Linked DNA regions of Homo sapiens: all the other regions are linked to region 1. The links come from fine-mapping of genetic effects on gene expression. A gene starts in region 1. Each other region holds a variant in brackets. All regions are shown on one strand. Distances are from middle to middle. Region 1 holds the start of MYLK-AS1 (MYLK antisense RNA 1). Region 2 overlaps MYLK (myosin light chain kinase). Region 3 overlaps MYLK (myosin light chain kinase).

Region 1 (8,178 bases):
ATTTAAATATCTTCAGGGGTGGGGCAGAGGAAGGTAGTAGACACGAACAAGGTTGTATGTGGAAAAGATCACTTTGGCTGTACTGTAGAGCAGGGGTCCCCAACCTCTGGGCCACAGACTGGTACAGGTCCATGGCCTGTTAGGAACCCAGCCACACAGCAGGAGGTGAGCAGCAGGCAAGTGAGCATTACCACCTGATCTCCACCTCCTGCCAGACCAACAGCGGCATTAGATTCTCATAGGAACACGAGCCCTATCATGAACCATGCAGGCGAGGGATCTAGGTTGCAGGCTCCATCTAATGCCTGCTGATCTGAAGTGAAACAGTTTCATCCTGAAACCATTCCCTCCCCAGTCCATGGAAAAATTGTCTTCCATGAAACCAGTCCCTGGTGCCAAAAAGGTTGGAGATTGCTGCTATAAACAACAGACTGGAGTTGGGCCTAAGTGACTGCAAGAAGATACATTGAGTTTTAAACTGATTTCCAACTGAACAGAACTTTATGCATTCCTGCCTCCTCCTACTTTCCCATTAAGTAGATTATATTGAAAAAAAAATCAGTCAAATGAATGAAAGAAGCTTTTAGATGAATGATTATTTGGTTTTGTAAAATGGTTCACTTCTTTATTTCTTTTGCAAAGAAATTTTTTTGCCCTCTGATCACAGTGTGCAATTTGGGCTCACCAACTTGCTCTTTGAAAAATTCAGGAAGGTCGGGTGTGGTGGTTCATGCCTATAATCCCAGCATTTTGGGAGGCCGAGGCAGGTGGATCACCTGAGGTCACGAGTTCGAAACCAGCCTGGCCAACATGGCAAAATCCCGTCTCTACTAAACATACAAAAATTAGCTGGGCGTGGGGGCAGGCACCTGTAATCCCAGCTACTTGGAAGGCTGAGGCAGGAGAATTGCTTGAACCTGGGAGGCGGAGGTTGCAGTGAGCCAAGAGTGTGCCATTGCACTCCAGTCTGGGGGACAAGAGCAAGACTTCGTCTCCAAAAAAAAAAAATTTCAGGAAAACAAGGCAACAGAATCTCTGAACAATCTGCCATGGCGGGAAAGGATGGGACCCTGACAATTGTCAACTTATGCCTCTCACTTCATCTCTTGAGGTCTTGAAACTTCTTTTGCAAAAATTGTAACAGTGAGAAAATTATGACTGAGAGAGATCTGATCTAACCAGCCCCCACCTTGACTCTGTAAATCAAAGAACACGATCAAGGCAAGTCTCAATCATTTTAGGAGGTTTATTTGCCATAGTAAAGGATGCATGCCAGGGAGGCAGGTATATGCCTATCTCCAAAGATGATTTTGAGGGCTTCAGTACTTAAAGGGGAAAGGGTGGATACTGGGGGAAGAGAAATTTTTTTTTTTTTTTGAGACAGAGTCTCGCTCTGTCACCAGGCTGGAGTGCAGCGGCGCAATCTCGGCTCACTGCAACCTCCAACTCCAAGCGATTCTCTTGCCTCAGTCTCCCAAGTAGCTGGGACTACAGGCGCGCACCACCACACCCAGCTAATTTTTGTATTTTTAGTAAAGATGGGGTTTCACCATACTGGCCAGGCTGGTCTCAAACTCCTGACCTCCTGATCTGCCTGCCTGGCCTCCCAAAGTGCTGGGATTACAGGCGTGAGCCACCACGCCCAGCCAAGAAATATTTTTAAATTGTGTCAGTAGATAAAAAGATAAAACAGTTGCATCCTTTTGAATACACAATTTTCATGTGAGTGGGGAGTGGAGGAAATATTCATGCCTTAGTCTGGCTCAGTTAATCTGTATTTTTACATAAGATAACGTAGACAATAGGGCAGAGGAAGCAATCAGATATGCATTTGTCTCAGGTGAGGAGAGGGAAGACTTTGAATTCTGTCCTATGTCCCATACCTGTGAAGATATCAACTTACATTGCCAGGTTGAAATTCAACAGAACTGTTTTAGAGTAAAGATCTTTGGGCCTAAAAGGAATTTCCTTGTGGGTAAAATGTGAGGGAAGTATATAGCTTTTATCTTTGTAGCTATCTTATTTAGGAACCAAATGGGAGGCAGGTTTGTGTGACCCAGTTCCCAGCTTGACTTTTCCCTTTGGCTCAGTGAATCTGGGGTTTTCCTTTCTCATCTTTAACCTCCAAAACTGCCCTTGGTCATTCCTGGGCTTGCACCAAGCTAACTTTGGGAGAAACTTAGTTTACAGTTTAAGCGATAATAGCCCCTCCCCAAAACTAAACCACTTTTGTAAAACTAATGAAAAGCCACCAGGTTAGAAGGATAAGAGGAGCTTGAATTCTGCTAAGACATAGGCTTTGTTAAGTTAAATGATTACCAGCCACTATTCCAGAGGTCACTAGATTTGCAGCTTCCCCAGTTCACTACTGTAGAACCTAAGATTGGCCTTTTGAGATAAACTTTCAGGCTTCTGCATTTCGGATGGCTGACGACCCCACTGAGACCTTTGACTCTTGGCTCAACCAGTCCTGTGGCCTCCACCCAGAAGCAGGCTCAGTGCAGGGGGACCATTTTCCACACCCCTATAATTGCATTCCCAACCAATCAGCAGCACCCATTCCTCCAGCCTCCTGCCTGCCAAACTGTGTGTGTGTTGGGGGGGGGGTGGGTGTTTTGTTTTGTTTTGTTTTGACTATAGCTCTCAGATCTTAGCCAAACTATTCTTGAAAAACCCTACCCTCTGAATTTTGGGGGAGATTTGGAGTAATAACTCCATCTCCAAGACCTATCTCATGTCAATTAAATTCTTTATTGCAATGCCATGGTCTCTATGAATTGATTTTGTCTGTGCAGTGGGAAGGAAGAACGTATTGGGTGATTACAGTGTCATGGATTTAAATACCACCACCACCCTCAGAACTCTGAGAAAAGATAATACCTCAAACAGCTCTGAGCTGTCTGAGCTATGTGAAGTATGCAAAAATTTATCAGGCCCAGAGACAAGAGTTTGCCTGGGGGCAACTGTTTAGACATTTTGTTCCTGACTAGCAGCCTCACCCATTATCTTCATGTTCCTGGAATCTGTGATACAAAGAATAGTTTATAGCCAATCAATAGCTAATGTAATTTTAATGTAAATTCTTAGTAAACAACTTAGAAGCTGCCTCTTTTTCCTTTAAAAACCCACTCATAACCGCTGCTAATCAGAGTGTATATTTAGGGTAACTTGAATCTATGCTCCCAGGTAGCCATCTTCAACCTTTATGCTTGAATAAACTTCCTTTAAACTAGATTCTTACCTTTTTTATTATTTTAGGTTGACAACTCTCAAATTTATATCTCTAGCCCATTGGACTTCCTTCCCGAACCTCAGGGTCTAAATTTAATTGTCTATCCAGCCTCTCCACTTGGATGTTTAATAAGGATTTCAAATTCAACATATAAAAAACAAAATTCCCGACTTCCGCCTTAAAAATGGTTTCTTACAAGTTGCTCAAAACGCCTTTGACCTCACACTCCAAAACTAACATATCCACAAATCTTATAATTCTACTTCTAAAATACGCACAGAATTCATTGTTGTTTTCATCACCTCGATTTCCACCACTCTGGCCCACACCACTATCACCATGGCTGGATTATTGTAATAACTTCCTGATACCACTTTTCACCAACTAATACGAGCATTTTCGTCTGGTTCCCTCAGGGGTCCTTAAGCCCCAGGCTGCGGATAGAACCAATCCCTGGCCTGTTAGGAACCAGGAGGCACAGCAGGAGGTGAGCAGCAAGCAAGGGAGCATTACCTCCTGAGCTCCGCCTCCCTCAGATCAGCGGTGGCATCAGATTCTCATAGGAGCGGGGAACCTATTGTGAACTGCGCATTGGAGGGATCTAAGTTGTGTGCTCCTTATGAGAATCTAATGATAAATGTAATGCCTTTGAATCATCCTGAAACCATCATCCACCCCCCCACCACGAAACCGGTCCCTGTTGACCAAAAGGTTGGGGGCCGCTGCTCTATATAATCCCTGGGAGACTGACGACTTTGTCTCTTTCACTTAGTGCCATGAACTCCAGGGCAACTTTGTGGACGCTCCATAAACACTTGCTGGAATGAACCCATAAATATTTTATACTACCACATATACAGTAATACATTTAAGGAGCTGCTTGGGTGTGTAAAAAATTGCAGGGGACGTTTACAAATAAAGAACCTCCTGAAACAAAGCAATGAATGGAAAGTGGGATCAGCTGGTTGAAGCAATGCCCACAAGCTGCTCCAGCTTCCCAAAGCAGAGAGGTTTTCCACCTAAGCCAACATCCTTTTATTTTTAGTCACTATAGCTATAAATCTACTCCCTTACCCCGCACCTCACTCTCAGCCGACAGCCCAATGGGCTTATCCTCCTCTCGCCCTCACGATGAGCGAGTCCACGCGGTCTCAGGCTGGAAGATGCACTTGAACACCAGCCAAGCACTCACGGACGACACTGGATTCTAGGCCGCCTGGGCTTCTCCACTGTACTAGGAATGTAAAATCAAAAGTCAGAAAGAAAACTTCGGAGGTGGAATCTCCAACCCGGCAACGGGTTAGGAAGCAAAGCGCACCTACCAAAGGGCTGGTCCCTGCAGCCTCAAGGGCTGATGGGAAGTGAATCCACCGTCAACCGCCCTGATCCAAAATGGCAGGATACCGGAGCAATAGTGTTCAGGTGTGAAGATAGGGCAATTGAAGAAGGGAGAACGAAAGCATAATTGTTTTGATTCAACATGGAAGCAGTGATTATAGGAGGGCGAATAGCGAGGGACGACGCAACATCCAGCTGGCAGAAGCAGCGGGCCTGGAGAGGGTGGCTACATTGAACTAATCCAAGATGGCGCCGAGGTTGTAACCGGGAGCGCCCAAGAGGCGGGAATTACCCTGATCCAAGATGGCAGTGGCAACTGAGGCAAGCCGAAAGACGGGAGCGCCAGGAGCGTCTTTGCCCTCAGCCAAGATGGCGGCTGCCGTGGACCCTGTCCCGGCTCCGCCCCGCGGCCCTGGCCCCGCCTGCCCCTCGTCCCTTCCTCCGCCCCCTCTCCTCGCGTAGTCCGGCCCGAGCCGCTCGCGCTAGGAGAGCGGGCTTCGGGCACTTGACATGGCGGCAGTGGCGGCGACTGCAGCAGCGAAGGGGAATGGGGGCGGCGGTGGCAGGGCCGGGGCCGGGGACGCCAGCGGCACGCGGAAGAAGAAGGGCCCGGGGCCCCTGGCCACGGCGTACCTGGTCATCTACAATGTGGTGATGACAGCCGGGTGAGGCTGGGGCTCGGGGAGGCGGGGAGCCAGCGCGGCCGGGGAGGGAGCCCTGCGGCCAGCGGCGGGGCGGATAGGATCGGCGCGGCCCGCCGCAGGCAGTGCATTCCCGGCGGGGGGTGCCCGGGACCCGGTACCTGGGCGCTGAGGGCGGCCGAGCGCTGAATCGGCCCCGGTGGCTGCCCGCGAGCTCCCTCCTGCGCTGGGGGTCGAGCCAAGTTCCCAGGCACTGGGGCGCGGGGACGGCTGCCGGGCGCTGGCTCGCGAGGGCCGCGGGAGGAAAGGTGGGGCTGGCCACAGGTGCGGGGCCGGGGGCAGCGGCCGGACTACCTGCGGCGCGGAGCCCGTCCTGGGCGGCCAGATTCGGATGTTGAACGGCGCCAGCATGGGGAGTGGAGGAGCTGTGGCTGCAGAGTGACCATTCATTTGGGCGGCTGTTTTCAAAATCTGGGCTGCGCTTTAATCTGAAAGGTATTGGGAAAGCGTTCAAAGTTTTTGGCCAGCGACATGAGCAGAGCTAGGCTTTAGATGAGTTTAGACTTTTAGGATGGGTTGGGGTGGGGAAGAAACTGGGGAGTAGAAGGCAGAGTTACTGGAAAGGGGGAGAATGGACCCTCGAAACGGTTTTACCCATCTTCTGTCTCTTTCATTTCAGTGCATCCCTTATCCCGGCGGGTTTTTAGTTCAAGCTCTGCCACTAACTAGCTGTGTGACTTTGGATAAATCATCTTATTTCTCTAGCCTCCGTTTTTTCATTTGTAAAACTAAAGGGTTGGTCTGGGTGATGAAGGTTCCTTCAGCTCTGCAATTCTTTATCTTGTCATTTTGGTGAGGAGGATCACAGCATCAGACAGTTATATATTTTTAAGTTATCTTCATTTGTAATTTTTTAAGAAGTCCTAACATTTTATTATGAAAAATTTCAAACATACAGAAGAGTTGAAAGAATTGTATAGTGAACATCCATTTTTATTTAAAGTAGGTGATACATTGTTAGGGTTAAAAATGAAAAACATGAGGGAATACAGTGAAAATCTTTCCTCCCACCTTTCCCTTCTACCCAGCTCCCCTCCCTCGAGGCAGTTAATTTTGTGTATCCTTAAGATGCTGATGCAAGCAAATATGTTTATACATCCCCCTATCCCTTTTTAAAATAAGACAAATGCCAATATATTAATATTTTTACAGTTCAGCACCTTGCTTTTTTTTCACGAAGAAGAAAATATATCGTGGGAGGATCATATATGTATTGCTAGTATTAGAAATGGTAGGTGTTGGAACCTAGGCTCAGAGAAGTTGTGACTTGCATGAGATCATAGAACTTGTTAGTAGAAGTTCCAGATCTAGAAATCATTTCTCTTGACTCACAGGTCAATGAAGAACTAGTACAGATACAAGCTTTATATCACATCAGTGGTCACATAGATTGATTTTTAAAAAAACATCCAGGAATCTCACTGTGTGTATTAATATTTATATATAAAATTCTTGTTGTCTTAGCAAGAGCCGGTGAGGGCATTGGACTGGAGAGGGATTTTGAGGTACATTGGTAAGAAGAAAGAAGTCTATTCCTGAGCAATGAACATAGAGAATGGGGTGGAGGGTAAGGAGTGGTATCTTAAACCAGGAAGATAAATTGGGATTGTGAGAGCAAAGTAAGCTTTTTTTTTAAGGCTGTTAATGGTTGTACCAGTTACACCATTAAATAATTTCTTCTTTTACAAACTCTTACTTGATGTCCTTATGTGATAGTTTTTGGAAATAGCATAGACCACACACACCCCATTGCCTAGTTGATACTATACATTTATCTAAATCCTTCCAGGAGACATACCTTAATAAAAAGGTCCATTTGTTTTATTATGGAACTTAACAAAACATTGTGTTTATTTTTGAGAAGGACAGTGGAACAAAAATATAACATTCACAGCTGTATGCTTAAGTGCTTTCCTGTTTCGTGGTTTGTATTGATCTGGCTTTCATTTCTGCATTGATTTTAGGAAATTTGGCTAAAAAACTTTTTTTTTTTAGCAAGAGCCCTTTATTCGTAATTTTAAAAGGATAGATTTTAAGGTATGGGTAATTGTTCCAGTGAGACAATTATAACAATAGTTTAAAGCATCTTCTTTCCACCCTGTAATTATTAAAAACCCTTTAACTGCACAGGCTGTTTAAAATTTTCCTTTAACTGTTTTTTTCTCGTCTTAGATTTTCTTGGCACCTGATTTAGTGGCACAAGGACCATTTTAGCTTATTCCTTTCCTTTTGGCCTTGATCTCAATAGCAAAGTTGCCAAAAAAATGAGCTCCAGATGGGTGAGGTGCCACTATGCTTTCACTGAGCCCTCTTGGTAAGGTGCTGTCGGTGTTGCAACATTTCAGTGCATTACAGCTTGGCATTTGAGAGCTATCGTCCATAAATCCAGGTTACTCATGCTTGAGGTCACCTTTAGCAATATCTTTTATTGCCACAGCTGTGTGTTAACCTAAATGCTACTTTTTTTATTTTTATTTTTTCCTGATTGCTGTTTTCTCTTTTACTAGGTGGCTGGTTATAGCGGTTGGTCTGGTCCGAGCATACCTGGCTAAGGGTAGCTACCATAGCCTTTATTATTCAATTGAAAAGCCTTTGAAATTCTTTCAAACTGGAGCCTTATTGGAGGTAGGTCCTGAGATTTATTGTTGTTATTGATTTCCATTGGTATGAAGAAAAACATGCAACTAAATTATATTGAAGTAGCATACCCCCTTTGGATTCATGTTAAATTTTGAAATTTTGCCTCCTCACATACTAAAGTGTTGATACCTAGGCTTTTTGATGTTCTAGATTGGGTAGAATCTCATTTAACTTAGGTTACCTTGAATGTATTTTATATTCGACTTTTTTGGGAAATCAACTGAAGCAAGCTTATATTAGGATTTTTAAAAATTCTAGGGACATCCT
Region 2 (8,178 bases), 76 kb before region 1:
TGGATGTCCTGCAGCAGGATCACTGCCCCTCAGTCTTACCCTGAAGGTTCCGGAAGCCAAGAGAGAAGCCAACAGACCACTGTGGACAATGGCGTCGAATGTGATCAGAATGCCTGAGACCCTTCTGCCTCGCTCACTTTCTCCCTGTCCTCCCTCAGCAATGCCCCCTCAGATCATCCAGTTCCCTGAGGACCAGAAGGTACGCGCAGGAGAGTCAGTGGAGCTGTTTGGCAAAGTGACAGGCACTCAGCCCATCACCTGTACCTGGATGAAGTTCCGAAAGCAGGTCAGTGACGGTATGGGGTGGGCACTGGGGGTGCTGGGAATAATCCGTACAGCCTTTGGACCGAAAGGGATGAGAAATGCCGTGCTGGAGATGGCCTCACTCTTCGTAGCTTTAGAAATGGGAGAGGCCACTCCCCTACCCATCGCTCACCTGCCAAACCTGAGTTCTTGTTAACCTTTGCTTCTGAATCTACCAATAATCCCCGCCTTTGTAGACAATTTGTGTAATAGAAGTGTGAGGGGAAAAGTAGAAACCATCCATGTCCCTCATCTGGTTTGATAGCACAGTCTAGAATCCTATTCAGAGTCAGGAAAGTCGAGCCTGTGACCCAAGATGACCCTTAGACTCCATGAGCTTGCTGTGATTCTGTGCCAGCCCACTGATTCCTGTCTGTTATAACCACTTAAACTTGCCACATGCTGAAGGGACAAAAGCAAATGTGAGTATTTGGATAGAAGAATTGTATGATAAATAGAATTGTGTCTGACTGACCCAGAAATCTAGCTACAATTTATCATAATGGTTCCTATGGAACAATGTTTGAATTTCTAGACAACCAGCATTGAAAGGACTTGGGGAGCCCAGCAGCTCCACCAATCCACGGTGGTAGTGTGTGCCTGTATGCATGATCAGCAGAGACCCTGGAATGATGGGTTGGCACAGGAGTGGGAAGTTGTGAAGATTTATTCTGAGCCCTCTGTTACTCTGTTTTAAAATCACTCAAATTCTCCTAGCCCCAGAGATGAACACTTAGTACTAACAGGGAGGAAAGTAGGGTTGGTCTCAAAAGATGGAAATGAGAAGTTTGCCTTTAGCATCCCAGAGCATGTTTGCCCTGAGCGACATCTGGACTACTGTTGTCTGAAATAAGATGGAATCTCATCACTTTTCAGAGACATTTAGCCAAGTCCCAGCTCTGTCCTTCAGAACTTTCTGCCCTGATGAAAGTGTTATCTCTGTGCTATCCAATATGGCAGCCACCAGCCATATACATGGGGCTATTGAGCACTTGAAATGTGGCTAGTGCAACTGAGGAACTGAATATTTAATTTTAATTAATTAAAAATTGTTATAGCAGCTTTGTTAAGATATAATTCATATGCCATAAAATTCACCCTCTTGAAGTGTACACTTCAGTGGTTTTCAGTAGATTCACAAGGTTGTGCAAGCATCACCATTATCTAATTCTAGAATACTTTCATCATCCCAGTAAGAAACCCCAGACCCATTAGCAGACATTCCTCTCCTTCCCCCAGGCCCTGACAACCACTCATCTACTCTCAGTATTTATGGATTTGCATATTCTGGACATTTCATATCAATGGAATCATACAGTATGTCATTCTCTCTGTGTAGCTTTCTCTTTTTTTGACTTAGCATACTCTTTTCAGGGCTCATTCTTATTGTAACATGAATCAGTACTTCATTCCTTTCAATGAATTAATAATAAATATTCCATTGTCAGGATAGACCATATTTTGTTTATTTGTTCATCAGTTGATGGACATCTGGGTTGTTTCCACTTAACTAATTAAAATTTAAATAGCCACATGTGACTAGTGGCTACAGCATTGGACAGCACAGAAGAGGCTAGAACCCACTGGAGTGGATCTTGTGAATGACTTTGCTGAGATGTGTTCTCCTATCATCCCATTCCAGAGAGGTAGAGGGAGACCAGGATATTTCTGGGAGCAGTGAGTGCTCAGCTAGTTCATCCATCCATCCTGCCCCTGCTCCACACCCTCCCTGCCCACCCCAGACCTGGCACCCTCAGGGAAGCTGGACTCTGGATGTAGGAGAGAAGGGGCCTCAGGGAGAAGGGCAGAGTCCAGACCAGACTGAGCCCCCCCACAGCTTGTCCAGCTGCATCCTTCAGGAAGTAGGGAATGGGGAGGAGCCCCCTTCCTTTCCTAGCCCAGGGGCCCAAGGCTCCAGCACCTGCTCCATCCTCCGCCCCTAGATCCAGGAAAGCGAGCACATGAAGGTGGAGAACAGCGAGAATGGCAGCAAGCTCACCATCCTGGCCGCGCGCCAGGAGCACTGCGGCTGCTACACACTGCTGGTGGAGAACAAGCTGGGCAGCAGGCAGGCCCAGGTCAACCTCACTGTCGTGGGTGAGTCTGGTGGCTGGGTGGCATGGAGCTTGGGGCAAGGGGAAGGCAGGGAGCCCCCAGGCAAGATACGTGGGCCTCAGGACTTCATCACCCATTATCTCTCACCACTCCTGTGCCTGATTTATAAGGCACCACAGAAAGAAGATCACGGCAACCCACAGACTCCCTGCTAGACCCTGCTGACCTCCAGGCTCAGCAGAGGGGCCAAGGCTGGGCAGAAATCCTTTTCCCTGTCTCTATCAACACCTCTCTGTGATAGCTGTTCCTGGAGTTCCCCGCCCTCAGGCCTTGGCATCTAGCTTATTTGAGAAATAAGAGACATGAGGCATAAACTTGGTCAACTTCTTGGCCCCTACGCCACAGGTGTCTGTATCTGTCCCCATCCTGACTCCACCCTCCAGGCTCTGGGGATGGCCCACCTTGGTCCCACCAAAGGCTGCTCCCTTCTCCTGTGCTCTGGACCCCAGGTCCTTGGGGGCTCCACCATCCCTACTTCTCTCTTCAACCTCTTCCTCTCTCCTGGCTCCTCCCAGCAGCCCGTAAGTGTCGCCATCTTAGCCAGATGCACAGGCATTAATAACTCCTGCAATGTTCTCTCTCACTCTAGCCACCCTACCTTCTCTCTCTGACAGGGGTGAGTCTCTACTGCACTTCCGCTTCTTCACCCCCCAGCACCCTCCAGCTGCCTATGGCCTCACCCCCACGCCCCATTAGTCTGCAGGGACTGTTCTTCTGAGGTCACCATGACCTCCCAATCCTGACTCCACTCGATTTTCCTTACCTTCATACCAGGATTTCCTTCATCCCAGGATTGAGTGGGGTCTGTCTCCAGACTGATTCTCAAGTTCACTTTTCCTCTCCTCCCTTAACACTGTCTTCGTGCCCTGGTCAGCTCTCTCCTGGAGCATCAAGAGAGTTTTCTAACCAGTCTCCCGCTGTTGTCATGTTCTGCTCCAGTTGTTCCCCGTGTGGCAGGTGCTTGGGACAGCAGAAGAATGAGCAGGCAGAGGAGCAGACAGAGAGAGAGAGTAGACTCTATGCCTCATGCATTTGTGGGCCTTCATATGTTGTGCATGTGAAAGCCTTTGACCTGGCATTTATTGATATGTGCACGAGACCCGAGCGGGTTTTCCATTTGTCCTTGGCTTTCAAGCTTATAGGGTACATTTGTGAAAATTAGAAAAAGGGGCCTTGCTGGGCAGAGTGAAAAGGGTACAGCACCCCCAGCCTCACCCCAGAACTCATGACCTGGCCTTGGGGAGGACAGGTTGGCCCAGATGCCCCCACTAGACCCCTTTTATGCAGTGCACAAAACTCTCAGCTGTGTGTGCTGATCCCAACCTTAACTTCCTGCAAACTAGCCTTTCCTGTGTGTTCCTGGTGCACACACACGTGGGCACACAGAACAAAAGGATCTGTTGGTAACAGGGCTTGTGTGGCTACCGTGGTTAGAAGTCTTCCACTGGAATCTCTCTTATGGAAGTATCTAGATATGAAGTTAGAAGTTGTAGACATTGACTCTTAAGGTCTCTTGTAGCTCTGACATTCTATGATTCCCCAACTCTATTCTCTGACATTCTGATTCCTCGACTCTATTCTCTGACATTCTATGGTTCCTCACCTCTGTTCTCTGGTGGTCTGTGATTCCTTGACTTTGTTCTCTGACATTCTGTGATTCCCTGACTTAGTTCTCAAGCAGTTTTTCTCCCCTATCTTCATCTCGTATCATCACCTTAGGACTAGGATGGACAGGACTGATGTTTCCAGCCTTATGCAGGAGAAACTGAGGCCTAATCTGAACAAAGTAACATAGTGCATCAGAGGCTAAGTGGGAACTAGCTCTAAACTTTCAAACACTTGTCCTCCAGTGCCACTCATGGGAGTGTGAAGTAGGTACAGAATGTCCCAAAAGGTAAAGGAACACTCTGGCTGCAAAACTCATCTTGAGGGGAGACATGCAAGCCTTTTGGGGAGCTGTCCACATGCCAGAGAGTTGTTGATGTCTGTGCCTCCATTTTTCTCATGCTGAGCCTTAGGAAGCCCTGTAGCACTTCCCTTCAGCCCCTAAGCAGCTGGGGAAGAAGAAGTCCTTGTCCAACCAGGTGAATAAGGAAGACACGAGGATAAAGGTCAAAGTAATACAGAGCTGGGAAGACAAATGAGGTGGCCA[G/A]TGAGCTATGCCCATGCCAGCTACCAGAACAGACCACAGGTTCCACACCCTGGCCCGACTCCCCAGAGAGGAAGTACTGCAAAGCCCCCTGGAAGATTGTCCCTGGACACAGGGGACCCGGGAGAGGGAATTCACAGAGGACTGAGCTCCAGCATCCACTCCCCACCCCCAGTTGTCCATATTTCTGTTTACCTTCTCTCTTGCTCTGTTCCTCTCCCTGGCCTTGTTTCTTTACCCTGTGTTCTGTTTCAGCCATTTCTCAGTGTCCGTCACCCTGTCCCATGTCCCCTCTTTTCCCTTTGTCTTCCTTCCTCTGACCCTGTTCTTTTGTTTCTTTTGGTTAGAAGTTTCAGATCGGGGAAGACTGGTGTACAAAGGGGTCAGGGAATGGGTTTTTCATTTCTAAAGGAGAAGAACAACCCTTTTCTCACTCTGTCTCTTTTTGGTGACTCCAGGTGTTTATTTGAATAATTTCCTCCCAAGGAGTCAGGAACCTGTGGAGGCTTGGTGCTAGTGATCCACTTTACTGGTACATTTAGATCTGTTCTGAAGCACTGATTTGGCCCTGTACTCCCGTCCTATCAGCAAGCATCAGTTTAAACTTTTCTTTGATGTTCTCTCTCATCTGCTCCTCCTTAAGCAACTTTGGGGTCAGCTTCTTTGAACTGCTTTTCTACAGAAAAGCTCTCCCTCCCCCCAGCCCCCACGATGCCCAGCTCCTGCGCAGTGCCACGCACTCCCCTCCTCCGATCACCACTACGCGGGCTGCAGTTCTGGCCTTTTATGGTTTAGTTTCTTATTCTCTGCAGCCAGTGCTGACAGGGCCATTGGCGTGGCTGTCTGCCAGCTGGCAGGAGCAGCATGTTAAATGCCGTCCTGGGAGGGGAATGGAATGGAGGAGAACCGAGGCTTTCTGTCTGCCTCCCCCTCAAAGAACTAAGAATAGAATTGCTCAATAAAATAGGACTCACATTGATGGATACAGCAAAGCCACATTCATTCAGAGCCTGTACACTTAGAATTAGTTCAAAGTAAACCTGGATGAAGCTCAGATTTACCTGTGCATCTTCAGGGACATCTCTGTATTCCCTGATCAGGGTTTATTAAGCAGATGTAAAATGTACATGAGGTAAAACAGGAATCACTTGGTCTGCTCCGGACAGTTTTCATGCATTTACAGACCAGCTAAATAAGGCCAGTTTAATACAACTCCTCCTTGTTAGCAGCAAACTTCTCTTATTGTATATTCTTTAAAGGGCCACTTTCTTTTCAGATCCTCTCTGGCTCCTATTTTTCAAACAATAATAAAAACTAGCCTTTCCCTCTGTTAGCTTAAATGAGTGATATTTAGCTATTTTGGAGACTTATTATTATTATATTTTAAAAGGCAGCCCAGGAATTTGCAATGCTCAGAGCCTCTTCCTGCACATGCGCCCCTGGTCTTGGCCTGTGGGGAATAAGGGAGGGGACAGTGAGCAGCATACCCAGATGGATTCCTTAAGGTCACTCACCCAGCACGAGAAAAGCAGGTCTCTTTTCATATCTTTAAAGGAGAAAAACAAAGTAGAGAGAACCCCAAATACCCAATAATCCCCAAATACTAACTGAGTTTGGAGCTTGCATGATTTCCCATCTTAATGCTCAGCTCAGGCTTAAGCAAGATGCCTTCTTGAGCTCATTCTGCCTGATAGCCTGGAAAGTCTTGAGCCCTGGAGCGAGGGTCCAGAGGCTTTTTGGAATCTCCTTTTGGCTCTGCCACTGACTACTGGGTTTTCTTGATAAGCAAAATGCCTTAGCTGCTGAGGACCCATTTCCCAAGGGCTAGGATTATCCAGGTAGATGACATGTGGGGGCCCTTCCAGCAGCTGCTGAAGTCCCAGGGAAGGGACATCCAGGTGGGGCTAGGCATAGCCACTGGTCATCTTCAAATAAGCGAGGACCAAGAGACCTCAAGAGCAGTTACTCTAGTGGGAAGCTGTAGGACAGGATCCTCCATTTTCCTGGAAATTAGAACATTTGCTGAGGAGAAAATCCTGGAGCTGGTGCCACTGGAGACTCTTGTCTTAGACTGAGCTGAGTTTCCTATTCTGTTAGTCAAGCCTCCAGGGAGCCCTGGGAGAATTCAGAGGAAATGTGGAGTCTCCTTTGCCCAGAGATGCCCAGGGTCTCCCTCCCAGTCTGAGTGTGTCGCCGTGGAGGACAAGCTCACAGGAGCTCCCTGTTCTAAGGACATCTGTTCTTTTCTGAGAGTTTTCATCCCTTTACTAGTTCAGCCACTGCATGGGGCTCATAGCTTAGAAAGAACAGAAAGCATTAGGTGCAGCCCACAGCTCTAAAGGCAGGTGGAGGAGTGGGAGGCCTCCAATCTCCTAGGACTTCTGACTTGGGTCTTTTCTGAACTCCTTAATTTGGTAGCAAATTCCTTAAAAATGTTGGAGTTTTACTTGGAATTAAAGTCCCTCGCCCCAAATTTTGCATCTTCTCTTGTGTGACAAGTCTTACGTATCACATATGTCATGTATAGGTTCTCATTTTCAGCCAAGAGACATGTGTAACAGGGTAGGGTACAAATGGCACCTCTTCTGCAACACCCATTTCTCAGTTTTCTTTTCTTGACCAAAGCAGAAGGAAGATCAGTTGGCAGAGTGCATTCGTTTATAAGCCCACACAACTCCAACTGTGGCCAATCACATGGTCTCCAGGCAGTCTTCTCTGGGAGGAATAGTGGGTCTGTCTTCCATCCCTCTTCAGGTTTTTTTACTTCCTTAGCTGGGTCTTGAGAGGACTTGAACCACTTGTCTTTAAGAGAGTTTAGAGTAATAAACATCTTAGCCAAAACCAGAAATGTTTCAAAAAAGGCCAATATATCTCTCAGAACAAACAGTTTTTCTAAGAGAACATATTAAACAGCCAGTGAAAGTGCTTCCATCACAGGAGGCCTCTGGCATGACTGCCAGCACTGGGAAGTGGCTCTGTCACAATCCCAGAATCATTCCCAGGGCTTTGGTTATTGGGGTAGACAGTTTCTGGGCAGTGCATTCTGGGCTGGAATGTGGATCGGCAGGGCTGGGAGAGGGGACAAGAATGAATATGAGTATGAGTATATATACTCATATACACATGTATATACATGCAGATTTTTCTTCTCCATATACACAGGGTCATTTGCAGCCATTGCCTTTGGCCTTCCTGCCTTGCTGGAGGTGGGAGAGTAGCGGTCAAGTACTTTATCTATGTTTGCTTACTTGATGCTTGCAAAAACCCTAAGAGGTAGGAACATATTAGCACCATTCTCTGAATGAGAAAGCCAGGCAAACAAACCAGTTTCAAATTTGCTGGGGTTGACATAGCTTAAAAGCATGGTTTCAATTGCTAGTTTGTGAGGCTTCATGAAATCAAACAGCATTGGGGGAGATGAAGGGTTAATGAACACAACACAGATATCTGTAACTAACCAACCATCTGCAAAAACTAAATCTGAAAAATAGGAGAGTTTTGCTCAGATAAGCAACTAATAAAATCAGCAAAACTCAAGAGCCTCATTAAAGTATTGGCTACCATGATTTGACTTGAAGTTGGCAGTACTGCTAGTTCTGAGGCCAGGTCAT
Region 3 (8,178 bases), 45 kb before region 1:
CTCTTTGGAGCCTAGTCATCTGTCGGGCAGTCCCTGTCAGGGCGACTTCCACCTTTGTACCACAGAGCCCCTCCTGTTCTCCTTTCTGGGGCCAGTGAGAGATGGAGAGGCCAGGGAGTTGGAAGGGAAGGCAACAGACCGTGTCACCATAGGACGATGTGACTTTACTCTCTCCCACCCAGCCCAGCCATCAGGGCAGTTTCTGGCCCTATAGGGAAGGAGCAGAATGGGGTCGTGGAGCCCCCACACTCTTACCCCGGATCCTGAAAGGAGATAGTAGGTTGTGTGAGTACCTAGAGACCTTCTGAAGTTAGCAATACCCATGTGGTTTCTGGCAGGAAGTGAGAATACCAGAGAGCTGGAGGCCACACTTCCATACGGGAGAAATCCTAAGTCCACCTCCGTTTAAGAGCCCTCCTCCCCCTGCTGTCTCCCTCCCCTACTTCCTGGACTTGGTACTTCCTTGCTGCCTGTGGGGAGGCCACAACAGCTCTTCTCCGAGCCCTTCCCTCACCCTACTCCACAATGCCTTCTCTCCCAGCCTCCCTCAAGCCAGAGCGAACCAGCAATGGCTGCTCTGCTTCCTCCTCCTGCCTCTTCCTGACCAGGCCCAGCAGCACAGCCTTCCCATTCATGCTTGTTTGTTTGTCCAACACCCACCGTGGTGCAGACAGCTGTCAGCTGTCCCTCCCCACCCTGGTGTGTGGTCGGGAGATGCCAGGAGGGAGGAGAGGTGTGTATGGTGGGGAGGCAGGTCAGCTCTTCTGGTGACAGCTGCCCAGTCAGCTGAGGAGGGGTCACAGTGCCGGGGCATCGGGGGCCTCCTCAGACCAGGGTCTGACTGCAGGGCTCCTCAGCCAGATCCAGTAACCTCTGCCTTCCCCACCTGGGGCTGCCGCTGCCCTCTCTGCTGCTGAGCCTGGAAATACGCTCTGATTCCAGCCCTAGGATCCCTGTTCCCTCTCCAAGCCCGGCCACCACCTTCAACTTTTACTAACACAACTAAACCCCAGGTCGCTGCTTCCTCGGCCAGTCCACAAAATGATGCACAGCTCTTCCTGTGGACCTACTCAGCCCTCTCAGCTCTCCCACCAGAGTATCAGATGGCTAATATGGATAAAAGACTAACCCCTTCCTAGCAGTCAGTAGTTCCATCAGCAGATGTGTGGTCCCCTTAGCTGGCCACTGGTACAGTCGGGGCATCTGTCTGCTGCTTGAAACACAACACAGAAGCCAGGTGCAGTAGTGTGCACCTGTGGTCCCAGCTACTCAGGAGGCTATGATGGGAGGATCACTTGAGATCAGGAGTTCAAGACCAGCCTGGCTGATATAGCGAGACCCCCATTTCTTAAAACCCACACACATACACGCACACACACACACAGAAAGTGTAGTCCAAGAGGCATTTCTGCACCCTCTGCTCTCCTAACCTTCTGCCCCCACAGCCAAACAGGCTTCCACATCAGATTCCCTGGGGGAATTTCTTTGGCAATGAGCTGAGAATTAAGAAATTAGAATGCCCTGCATTCATGACCATTGTGTTTCATCAGCACAAAGACTAATATTTGACCACTAAAAATCAACATGTAGAGTCTGGCTGTACTTGATACATCCAGTGAAGAAAAAGTAAAGCATCCAAGGACTTGCCCAGACTGATTATAGTTTTGTGAAAAACAGATCAATCCATTAGTTAAAAACTAGATAAGACCAGGGAGATAAAGAGGTGTTTTAATGCTAACATTATTTGTTGACCGGTTGATTTTTTTAACAAATAATGACTGTTATCTAGCTGGGCGCAGTGGCTCATGCTTATACTCCCAGCCCTTTGGGAGGCCAAGGTGAGTGGATGGCCTGAGCCCAGGAGTTTGAGACCAGCCTGGGCAACATGGCAAAACCCCATCTCTGCAAGAAATACATAAGGTAGCTGGGCATGGTGGCGTGCGCCTGTGGTCCCTGCTACTTGGGTGGCTTAGGTGGGAGGGTCACCTAAGCCTGGGGAGGTTGAGGCTGCAATGAGCCATGATCACGCCACTGTATTCCAGCCTGGGTGACAGAGCGAGACTCTGTCTCAAAAAAATAAAAAGAAATAATAATAATGACTATTTTATAAATAAAAAGACAAGGCTGGGCACAGTGGCTCATGCCTGTAATGCACTTTGGGAGGCAGAGGTGGGAGGATTGCTTAAGCTCAGGAATTTGAGACTAGCCTGGGCAACATGGTGAAACCCCATCTCTACCAAAATACAAAAAATTAGCCAGGTGTGTTGGCGCGCACCTGTGGTTCCAGCTACTCAGGAGACTGAGGTGGAAGGATCGCTTGAGCCAGAGGTTCAGTGAGCTGAGATCGCACTACTGCACTCCAACCTGGGCAATAGAACAAGACCGCATCTCAAAAAAAAAAAAAAAAATTAAAAGACATGATCCCTTATGCAAATTCTGCCACAAAGAAAAAGTTCCCCAAAAAGGTTTTTAAAAATCCTGTAAAACCCCACCACCCAGCAACAGCATTACTGAAAATTCAAACACCCTCTTTGTCAACATGCTGTGTATGTATTATATTTTTTATTCCAGACACATGCTCTTTAATAGGAAGAATGCTGGGGGAACTTGGGCAGGCAAGGAGCCAGGCAGGGTGAGGAGAGTATTTCAGATGGATAGGCTGCCAGGAAGGAGGAGTGCCAGAGGCCAGAGGCGAGGAGGCTCTCCCTGACTGTGCCCAGAGTTGCAGAGATTAAGACCTATCTTTGCAGGATTATAGTTCCTAATAAGGAAGGGAGGTTTGCAGAAGGGGAACTTTCTGCATTCCACAGCAGGGTTGTTTGCTTTTCCTGCCATCTTTTGGAGTACTGCCGGACTTCCCCCCTCTCTGTTTCCAGTGGAAAATGTAAAGAAGCAGCAGGTGGCTGACAGGCAAGAGACAGGCTGCTTCCTGATGGGGCTTGCATGGGCCACGTGGGGGTCGGGGTCACAGAGACAGAGAGAGCTGGGAGGCCCCTAGGAAATCTAGCCTAGTCCCCTTGATGTATAAAAGGAGAAGCTGGCTAGGCGCGGTGGCTCATGCCTGTAATCCCAGCACTTTGGGAGGCCGAGGCAGGCAGATCACGACACGAGGTCAGGAGATCGAGACCATCCTGACGAACACTGTGAAACCCCGTCTCTACTAAAAATACAAAAAAAATAGCTGGGTGTGGTGGTGGGCACCTGTAGTCCCAGCTACTCGGGAGGCTGAGGCAGGAGAATGGCATGAACCCAGGGGGCAGAGCTTGCAGTGAGCAGAGATCGCACCACTGCACTCCAGCCTGGGCAACAGAGCAACACTCTGTCTCAAAAAAAAAAAAAAGAAAAAGGAGAAACTGAGGCCCAGAGAGGGGAAAGGAGCAGCAGATAACAGTGCAGACTCGGGGACAGGTAAATGCCCACCCTTCCCTCATGGGGACATGACCGAGAATGATTCTCTTTGCCTTCTTAAAACATAAATCAGGGTCTTGCTTTAAAAAAAAATCCCATCCACAAAGATCTATTATTCAGAAACACAAATATGTTGATTAGGATGAGACAATTCACATTGTAAAAGCTTTCTTCTCTTTACAAAAGGTTTCACCAGAGGGTTCCTCCCATGGCAAGCTTTTTCTCCCAATATTTCAAGTGGGGTTTGTTCTGTCAAACTCAACCAAAGCCTTACTCCTGAAGCTGTCAGTGCTTGGCTTATGATGATGGATTCATAAGCATTTGGGAGAAGGGACATTGGTAAAGCCCTAACTTGACAGGTTGATGGCAGGAGGGCCCCAGACCCATCTCTCTTTTTTTTTTTTTTTTTGAGATTGAGTTTCGCTTGTTGCCCAGGTTGGAGTGCAATGGTGCGATATTGGCTCACTGCAACCTCCACCTCCAGGGTTCAAGCAATTCTCCTGCCTCAGCCTCCCGAGTAGCTGGGATTACAGGTGCTTGCCACCATGCCCAGCTAATTTTTGTATTTTTAGTAGAGACAGGACTTCACCGTGTTGGCCAGGCTAGCCTCAAACTCCTGACCTCAGGTGATCCATCCATTTTGGCCTCCCAAAGTGCTGGGATTACAGGCATGAGCCACCACGCCTGGCCCCCAGACCCATCTCATGGGGCTCAGCTGAGATCAGGGCAGGAACAGCTACACAATTTGCAACATGAAAGGTGGGGCCACTTGTTCAAACCTTATTGAGAATCTTGAGACGACAGCAGCAGAGCATTAAACCAAGCACAGGGCCTGTCTAAGGGTGGGACTGTGGGCAACTGTGCTGGTCTAACACCCATGAGGCTGACTCACAAGGCCCTCATGAACAGTGGGGTGAGTTGTTGCTATGAAGGTGAGGTGCACAGAGGTGAGAGGTAAGGTCAGTAAGCCACAAATCTGCTCTATTTTGTTTTGAAATTCTTTACCTTATAAAGTTTATTTGGCTTAAGCTGCTGGTCACAAAGTCATTCCTGCACTCACAGCTTGGTAAGGCAGTGGAGGGAACCCAGCAGAACTGCATGAGATCTCCGGGCATGGACCGCCTCCTTACTGTGGACCAGGCCTGGTGCCAGTGCTGAACA[C/T]TGCAATTTACTTCATCTTTACAGAAATGTTAGGATAGTATAGCATTTAAGAGGACAGGCTCTAGAGGCAGATACCTGGCTTCCAATCTCACTGGCTGTGAATCTTTGGGCAGGTGACTTGAGCCTGGGCTGTGCCTCAATTCCCTCATCTGTAAAACAAAGTTATAAGAATTACTTGCATCATAGGGCAGTGTTAAGATTAAGTGAGTTCACTTGTTTTAGGCACTTGACCCAGTGCCTGGCACATAGAAAAACCTCAATGAATGTCTGCTGCCATCATGATGATGATGAGGATGAAGAAGTGACCACCCTATAGTTAAATGGCAGCTTCTCCATTTTAGAGGAGAAAACTGACACAGATCAGGGAATTGTCCAAGGCCATACAGCAAGCGGAGAGGCTGCACTCTGTCCTCTGCCATGGCACCTCATAGGGAAGTTTTCTAGTTTGGCATAAATGCCTCAAGTTCCCCGAACCTACATTGCTGATTCAAAGTCCATCTATCCATTGGGCACACACTTCACTTGCTGAGCCTCTCTTATTTGCCGGGCCCTCTTCTTGGAGCTGAAGGTGTGTGGAGAGAGGTGGGAAGGAGGGGACAGAAGGGTGCAGTGGTGATCACTACCATGTGCCCAGTCCACAGAGAGGGGGCAGGAGCACGGGAGGAAGGGGCTTGGAGAAGGCTCTAGCCTGGGCTTTGGGGAATAATAGAAAACCAGGACAGAGGGACTTATCAGCCCTGCCGCGTACCCTGCAGAAGCCCGTAATCTAAAGCCAACCTGCTGCACCTCAGCCTCACAGGTAGGTGGTGTCAAGAGGCAGGTGACCAAGAAAAGACAGGGCTGTGAACCACACCCTCTTTTCTTTCCACAAGTGGAAGAAAGGCAGGTGCAAGGCCCACAGAGCATGAGTTTGGGGGTGGGGAGGCTGGCCGACCCTCGCCTTTGACCTCAGTTACCACTCACCTGGTCGTCGCGCCCTCTCCTAGCCACACCTGCTGTCCTGCTCTTGTCTCTCCAGAGTCAGTGGCCTTTCCCCCTTCATGGGAGACAACGATAACGAAACCTTGGCCAACGTTACCTCAGCCACCTGGGACTTCGACGACGAGGCATTCGATGAGATCTCCGACGATGCCAAGGATTTCATCAGCAATCTGCTGAAGAAAGATATGAAGTAATGAGTTGGGATTTCAGTCTTTGCTTCCCTACTCCCTGCCCTGTGTTGGGAAGCAAAGGGGGATTCCTTTGCCTGTTGGGGTGCCCTCCTTGCCACCCCGCCTTGGGTCGTTCCTAGCATTCCCTGAGGAAGGGAGGGTGGGCATGGTAAGAGACCCGAATGCATGTGGGTTGGGGAGGCGACTTCCTAGGCCCTGCCCCCTGGAGCTAGACATGGGATTCACCTTCAGAGGCTCAGACACCTGACTTGAAAAGCGACACTTGACCACGTTACAGAGCAAGGGGCAGCTGTTCTGTGTGAATAATGACCACCCTTCTTATTTTCTGGGTACAGTTGTGGCCAGCCACAGCCCTCTTCAGGGGCTGCAGGGGAAGGACCCTCTCAACAAGCAAGAGCAGAGGACACGGGCATCTTAGAACTTCTCTGTGGGTCCCGATCATATCCCCAGATTATTATTATTATTCTGGCTTAGTGTTTTTTTATATCTCAGTTATTTAATAACTGCCTGCTTGAATACAGCCAGGTACGTTCTAACATCTGGCCAAAGGGAGGCTATGATCCCAGACCACTGGGCTTAGCCCTCTCCCAGCTCCTCCTCTGTTGAGGTTCCCCACCTGTGCCTGCTGCAGCTGTGAACATAGGAAAGTGAACAGTGGGAGGTCAGCATGCATGGGCTGTGGGGAAAGGTCAGGCACTCAAGCCCTCTGGGTTTCAGTAGAAGATTGGAGCTTGGAGTTGTAGAGGAGACCAGAGTGGGAGGTTGGCTGAAGGTGGGCAGTGGGTGTGCCTAGACAGAATCTCCTGGAAGGAACTGTCCTGGGCTCTGCATGTGTAGGGAGAGCTGCCCAGGGAAAGGGAGCAGTGGGACTCAGGTGAGAACAGCTGGCCTATTGGGCAGCTCACCCACTCTGCAAATAGGTGACTAGATGAGGCAGGGCCTGACTGTAGGGGTGCCGAGGAGCTTGGAGCTATACTTGGCAATCCCAGGGAGCAGTTGTAGCCTTGCCAAGAAGGGTGGTGTTGACATGGGTGGCGTGCTAGAGAGAAGGGGAGGGGCCTGGCTCCAGGGCGGGCAGGAGGCTCTGCACTCCCAGGTGACTTTGCAGCCTTGCGGGGCTGCCGATGGCTCCCCTGAGGAAGAATGGCTGTTCGGGGCAGGAAGGCACAGTTAGTTGCTGAAGGAGCAATATTGGAGTGTCTCAGATGGCTCTGTCAGGCTTTCCTGTGATGCACCCCACTCTCAGTCCTTTTTAGCCAGTTCAGGGCCAAACTCCCCCAGAGGCCACATTCTACACTCCTTGACAATGAGATCTTTTTAGCCTTTTGCTGTCACAGTCTGTATCAGAAATGGGCATGACCCAAGGAGAACTGAGATACTGTGGGAAGTCTAAATTCTCTTCCAATATGAGGGACCCCCACACCCAAGGTGCCTCAGGAGATGGAAACCTCCTCAGTAACTCTGGTACAAGGATGGCTTTTGTCATCCAAGCTTTATTCACTGAAGATTTGGTAAACAAGGTATTGTGTGTGTATATATCTTATTTTCTCATCTGACCTTGAATTAAGTCAGTAACAGGCTGTACTGGATCCCTCTGTGCTCATAAAATGGATTCACCAAAGAACTGATCTTATTCAAATAGATCAAGACACTAAATTCCCATAAACTCTTATACCCAGCCTCTCTTCAACCAGAAATCACCACCTATCAGCACTTAAAAAAAAAATTCCTTCCTACTATAAAAATAATGCATGAAAATTATAGAGGATTTGAAGAATATAATAAAATTTAAATCATCTATAATCCCTTTATCTAAAGTTCACTACATTTTGCTATACTTCTTTCCAGTCATTTTTCTATGTATGTTAGCATTTGGTTCTTTAGGCTTTCCTAGTCCTGTTACAGTTAAGGCAATGGCTCTAAAATGTTTCTAGATCCCCAGAGCTTTCAGAAAGATGAAGTGAGTTTCAGCGCAGTTCTAAAGTAGTCATAATTCATAGGTTATAGGCAGGACCTACTTCTTTGAGTTGTAATGGAAAAACCTGATATTCAACAACACCGTAAGACATTAAACATGAAAGTTCAGTGATTGTCGGAGATTTTATCCTAGGATTTAACTCTCCCCTCCTCCAGACAGGGTGGCAGGAGGATTAGGCTTTGTGGGCCCCAGCCCTCATGAGAGGAGCAGAATGACGCCACCCTGGAATAGGGTGCCAGCCAATCCCAGAAACGTCTGCCCTGCAGCACTTACTCTTCCTCGATCCCAAGAGCAGGCCATGGAGCCCAGTCACTTCCTTGGTGCTTGGGCTTTCATTAACACCAACCCATGCTGGTTCTGGTTAGTGTGACCCAGACCAAGTGAGGAGAAAGGTGAAGAGCACAGTGATCCTGATCACGGTGGATGGTCCGGGAGCAGGGGCCCTGGGCTCTGCCCTCA

Evidence for each region.
Region 2: its variant is fine-mapped to the expression of MYLK-AS1 in unexposed skin (GTEx, PIP 0.95).
Region 3: its variant is fine-mapped to the expression of MYLK-AS1 in lung (TOPMed, PIP above 0.99). The same link has a PIP of 0.9 or more in cerebral cortex, hippocampus and whole blood.

What each region holds. Positions count from the first base shown.
Region 1 is chr3:123,581,930-123,590,107 of GRCh38, reverse strand. It overlaps MYLK-AS1 (MYLK antisense RNA 1), which reads right to left and starts at 4,595. Exons shown (of 4, transcript NR_121654.1): 1 at 4,555-4,595; 2 at 4,307-4,461. HACD2 (3-hydroxyacyl-CoA dehydratase 2) reads left to right here and starts at 5,055. Exons shown (of 7, transcript NM_198402.5): 1 at 5,055-5,235; 2 at 7,779-7,896. The coding sequence starts at 5,081. RefSeq lists an enhancer at 4,571-4,870 and silencers at 4,931-5,540, 5,551-5,730.
Region 2 is chr3:123,658,327-123,666,504 of GRCh38, reverse strand. It overlaps MYLK (myosin light chain kinase), which reads left to right. Exons shown (of 34, transcript NM_053025.4): 22 at 159-286; 23 at 2,247-2,400. LOC124909421 (a long non-coding RNA gene) reads right to left here. Exons shown (of 2, transcript XR_007096038.1): 2 at 5,006-7,636. Among named protein-coding and RNA genes, the nearest start is that of MYLK-AS2, 27 kb to the left of the region's middle. The variant G/A (reference allele first, on the strand shown) is at 4,571.
Region 3 is chr3:123,627,036-123,635,213 of GRCh38, reverse strand. It overlaps MYLK (myosin light chain kinase), which reads left to right. Exons shown (of 34, transcript NM_053025.4): 30 at 5,588-5,740. It overlaps MYLK-AS1 (MYLK antisense RNA 1), which reads right to left. Exons shown (of 4, transcript NR_121654.1): 3 at 5,533-5,720; 4 at 4,393-4,718. Among named protein-coding and RNA genes, the nearest start is that of MYLK-AS1, 46 kb to the right of the region's middle. RefSeq lists an enhancer at 4,991-6,190. The variant C/T (reference allele first, on the strand shown) is at 4,570.